Regions from separate parts of the Homo sapiens genome. Here region 2 is linked to region 1. The links come from fine-mapping of genetic effects on gene expression. Tissue or cell type: atrial appendage. Region 1 holds a variant in brackets; the other region holds the start of a gene. All regions are shown on one strand. Distances are from middle to middle.

What was found. PIP is the estimated chance that this variant, and not a neighbour inherited with it, causes the effect.
Region 2: it holds the start of HMGCL, and the variant in region 1 is fine-mapped to the expression of HMGCL in atrial appendage (GTEx, PIP above 0.99).

Annotation. Positions count from the first base shown.
Region 1 is chr1:23,926,595-23,929,276 of GRCh38, forward strand. MIR378F (microRNA 378f) reads left to right here and starts at 2,476; the gene lies at 2,476-2,553. The variant G/A (reference allele first, on the strand shown) is at 1,503.
Region 2 is chr1:23,823,968-23,826,649 of GRCh38, forward strand. HMGCL (3-hydroxy-3-methylglutaryl-CoA lyase) reads right to left here and starts at 1,462. Exons shown (of 9, transcript NM_000191.3): 1 at 1,389-1,462. The coding sequence starts at 1,448. LOC105376861 (a long non-coding RNA gene) reads right to left here. Exons shown (of 3, transcript XR_947068.2): 2 at 2,117-2,216; 3 at 1,573-1,621. RefSeq lists an enhancer at 1,463-2,331.

The sequences.
Region 1 (2,682 bases):
TGTGATCCGCTGGCCTTGGCCTCCCAAAGTGCTGGGATTATAGGCATGAGTCACCGTGCCCAGCCAACACCTGTTGTATATTTCATTTGTTCATTTTTCTGTTCCTCCTTCCTAAAATATAAACTTCATAACAGCAGGGATCTATATCTATTTTGGTCACTTCTACGTCCCCTGTGTCTAGAACAGTGTTTGGTACATCCCCAAAATTAGGTGTTCAACATCCATTAGGTGCTCAACTAATATTTGTTGAATGAATAAATGAATAGACGAATGAAGTAGGTGAGTCTCAGAAAAGTTAAACAAAGCAACTTATCCAATATTATCCAGCCATCAAGTGGCACAGATGGAATTCAAACCTAGAATTGGGACAGGCTTGGAGTCAATCCATTTAACCACTAAACCATAATTGTCTCATTCATGCAACAAATATTCACTGAGATCCTAATCCCTGAAGGACACTGTTCTAGGCACTGGGGATATAGCGGGGATGAAAACAGACAAAATCCTTGCCCTTGTGGTGCTTGCTTCTTAGTATTGTCCCATATGAAAAGAGATGTAGTTTTGTAAGATTGGGATGCAAGGCCCATGTGCCAACATACCTGGTTATGTATCAGTGGCAGACATAACTAATGGATCAAGACCCTTAATCCTGCCCAGCCCAGATTCTGCTCATGATCTTTCTCAACTCAGCACTCCATGCTGACACTCAGCTGACTGGAGTTGGCACCAAAATAACCCCTGTTGGTCATGTGTGAATAGGTGTTGTCTCCTCAATAAGGGCATGAATCCCAACCCTGCACTGTGTGGCCAGAACCCCTGGGACCACAAGTGGAAGTTCCATAGCTGGCACAGGACTTGGGGTTCCTTCCCACTGGCCCCAGACAGTGTTTCCCTCGTTCCTTTCCCCAGCCCCTCTGACCAGTCCTGGGGGCATGAAGAGCACAGAGCTTAGCCAAGGTACAAACTCAAAAGCCTTGAAGGCAGCCAGGTTATGCTGATCCTGGGAGGGCAGGCTGGTTAAGGAACGGGCATAGGCTCTGGAATGGATAGTTATGGGTTCAAATCATGGGTTCTCGACTCATTCACATGACTTTGGGCAAGTCACTGCACCATTCTGAACCTTAGCTTCCTCATGTGTTAAATACGGGGATTATGCATTTACTTCAAAGGGTTGACCTGAATATTAGATGAAATAATCTATATAAGGGGCCTGCCTTAGTGTTTGGAGAGCAACAGGTACTCAACAAATGTTGGATGAGGGAACAAATGAGTACCTGAGTGACTGCATGAATGAGTGTTCTGGCAGGAAAGGTAGACACAAAAGCATACCTGGTGGGTTGTATTTTCCAAAGATAACCTGAGAAGACGTTTGAGACCATTTCAACCAGTAGAGTATGTCAGAGTGATAATTTTTTTTTTTTTTTTTTGAGAAGGAGTCTCACTCTGTTGCCCAGGCTGGAGCGCAGTGGCGTGATCTGGGCTCACTGCAAGCTCCGCCTCCC[G/A]GGTTCACGCCATTCTCCTGCCTCAGCCTCCCGAGTAGCTGGGACTACAGACGCGCGCCACCCACGCCCGGCTAAGTTTTTTGTATTTTCAGTAGAGACGGGGTTTCACCGTGTTAGCCAGGATGGTCTTGATCTCCTGACCTCGTGATCTGCCCGCCTCGGCCTCCCAGAGTGCTGGGATTACAGGCGTGAGCCACTGCGCCTGGCCCGCTCTGAGAGTAAATGAAGGCAGAGCTATGCCCATCCAGCTCCGTTCACCATTCACCACCAGCAACCACATGAGAGACCCCAAGTCAGACCACACAGGCAATCCCTTTCTGAATTCCTGACCCTCTGAAACCTTGAAAGATGATGAAATGATTCTTGTTGCTTTAAGCCACTAAATTTTGGGGCAATTACTCTTCAATAGCAGAATTTGTACAGTGTGTTTGGGAACACAGAAGAGGGATCAATCAAAAGAAATTGAACATTCAGCTGGGCACAGTGGCTCACACCTGTAATCCCAACAGGGAGGCCAGGCAGGTGGATCACGTGAGGTCAGGAGATTGAGACCAGCCTGGCCAACATGGCGAAACCATGTCTCTACTAAAAATACAAAAATTAGCTGGGCGTGGGGTGGCGTGCACCTGTAATCCCAGCTACTCAGGAAGCTGAGGCTGGAGAATCGCTTGAACTCGAAAGACAGAGGTTGCAGTGAGCCGAGATCACGCCACTGCACACCAACCTAGGTGACACAGTGAGACTCCATCTCAAAAAAAAAAAAAAAAAGGTGTTGAACATTCAATGTAAAGAAAGAAATTACACTAATACATTGAGTAGGATACCCAATAAATTGAGTTGCTGTTGAAAATAATCCTTAGACGAAGGCTTTCACATATAGCAGCTCAAAGAAAGTCTCCATTCCATGTTATCTTAGGAAACCTCTCTGGAGCTCCACTCCTCCCACTTCCTGCTCTTCCTCCCCAGCCCCTGGGTCAGGTCCTGGACTCCCATAGTTTTCAGGCTGCTAAACAACAGAACGAGCACTGGACTTGGAGCCAGAAGTCTTGGGCTCAAGCCCTGCCCTTACTGCTTACTAGCTGAATAATTCTGGGCAAATCAGTTGGACCAGTTACACCTCAGCCTTCTCATTTAGGAAATGGAGATGTCACAACTGCTAATTCATTGAATGCTCTGTATG
Region 2 (2,682 bases), 100 kb before region 1:
AACCTGGCAGTGTGGCTCTAGAGCACAAGCTCCTAACCTCTGGGCCACTGTTGCCTCTTTACCACCGTTCGTTCGGTCCACAGTCTTCTCCTGGTTAAACATCCCGTTCCTCCTCTGTAAAGCTCTGCTCAGAGAGGGTCCCCCTAACCACACAAGTACTGTGCCACAGTGTCCTGAGGTATGGTGTACCTGCATCAACACCAACAGCGAATACTGACTAAACCCAGTGTTAAACTACAGGCCAGGGACTATTATTATCCCAACTCCGTAGGTGAAGAAACTAAGCCTCAGAAAGGTTACCCAAAAATCACAATTAGAAAGTGACAGAGCTTGGACTTGAACCCATATCTAGGCCTAATACTAATACTGGTTCCTATGCTTGGAACCCCATGGAGGGCCATCTCATTACACCAAATATTTCTTAAAAGCTTATTAATATCTACTATTGCGTTTAACTTTCCAAGTTGGAATTGCCATCTTCATTTTACACATGAGCAGGTGGTGCAGGTGAATGGCCAAGTAAAGATATTAACGTGGCTTTCTGAGAGGGACCCAGTGCCAGGAGTGTATTTTTCCCTCTATACAGTTATAACTCCTTCTCAACTCCCTAAGGTAAAAATACCACCACCGACTGATCACTTATTAGGAGCCAGAACACTGCCAGATGTGTTACTTACATTTTCTCTAATTTCCAAAACAACCCCAAGGGAATGTTGTCCGTTTTACAGACGAAAGAGCTGAGGTTTAGAGAAAGTAAATAACTATGTCATTAAGTCTAGAAAGTGGCAGAACTATTGGGACACCCTAGCTTCAGCTTTTATTTTTTCTGCTCCATACAGCTACGTCTCCCACACTTTTTCTGCGCTGAGAATGGGAGAGGGGAAAACATCAGGATCGAACAGGATCAAAGTGCAATTCCAAGGGAATCACAGCTTGGCTCCAATCAACGCAAGTCCCGCTCGGTAGGCTGGGATAGTTCCCCAAGCATCTCTAAAAGCAACAACAGTTGGAAATGGAGACGAAGGAAATGGAAGCGTGTTCTTGATTTTCACTAATGAAGAGTTGGAGAGGTCTGAAGTTCAATTAGAGGGAGAAAGGGGCCAGGGTCATCGGAAAGGGCCCTGGGCGGGGAATCAGGGCACCTAGGATGGCGTCCCAGGTCTCCATGACCCAGACAAGTCACTCCACCTCTCCGGACCTCAGTTTTCCCATCCCCTTCAAAGGATTTGAGGGGAAAAGGGAGGGTCCAGGACTCCAACGCCCTCCCGACTCTGGCCTGAGAGCTGTCCGGCCTCGCCTCTAAGAGAGCAGTCACCACGGGCCAAGCCCCCAACCCTGACAGTCAGAGTGCCTGCAGGGCCGCCGCCTCGGCGGCTCGGGGCACTTACAGCCCGGAGGGACGCCAAGCCCACCAGTCGCCGCGGAAGCGCCTTCCTCATTGCTGCCATCTTGGCCCAGAATCCCCCGCGGCAGTCCAGCTGGGCCCCGCGTGACCGATGGCTCGTCTGGTGGGCGCGGCCCCGCCCCCGCCCCTCCGCCGTGACTTCCGAAGCTGGCTCCACCCCCAGCCTCTCTCCGTTTTGATTCCGAGCGCCTCTTCCATGCCAGGCCAAGTGAGACGCTAGGAATATAAAGATGAACAGAATCAGCCTGGACACCATGTAATCCTAGCACTTTGGGAGACCGAGGCGGGTAGATCACCTGAGGTCAGGAATTCGAGACCAGCCTGGCTAACATGGCGAAACCCCCGTCTCTCCAAAAAATCCAAAAAAAAAAAAAAAAAAAAAAAAAAAAAAAAAAAGCCGGGCGTGGTGGTGGGCGCCTGTAATCCCAGCTACTTGGGAAGCTGAGGCAGGAGAATTGTTTGAACCCGGGAGGCGAGGTTGCAGCGAGCGGAGATCGTGCCACTGCACTCCAGCCTGGGCGACACAGTGAGAGCCTGTCCAAAACAAAAAACCCAAAACCAAACAAACAAAAACATGAAAAGAAATTAACCAAATTCTGTGGCTTCTTGTGTTTAGAGTGTGGGAGGTGTGAGGAGACACATATTAATAGTTACACAAACAGTTGTGTCATTTCTAACTTGCACTATAAGAAGCAACGATTTGCTACTCACTGTTCCGAGTTCTTAGCACGGATTAACTCACGCATCACGATCTTCAGGATTCAAACACAGGCAGGCAGCTCCAGAGAGGGGGCATCCTTAGATTTCATACCTTAAAAAAATGATTAAGATTTATCTAGGTGTACTTTCTGAAGGGCTGAAAAAAAAAAAAATCTATCCAGGTGAAGAGGATACAAGAAAAACTTTCCAGACGGTGTAGCATTCGCAATGGCCCTGAGGCAAAGAAAATGCTGAGAACACTGTTTTTCTCTCTTTTGTTTTGTTGGTTTGTTTTGTTTGTTTGAGATGGAGTCTCACTCTGTCACCCAGGTTGGAGTGCAGTGGCGCGATTTCGGCTCACTGCAACCTCCGCCTCCCGAGTTCAAGAGAGTCTCGTGCCTCAGTCTCCCGAGTAGCTGGGATTACAGGTGTGCACCACCACGCCTGGCTAATTTTAGTGTTTTTAGTAGAAACGAGGTTTCACCGTGTTGGCCAGGCTGGTCTCAAATTCCTGACCTCAGGTGATCCGCCCGCCTTGGCCTCCCAAAATGCTGGGATTACAGGCGAGAGCCACCGCC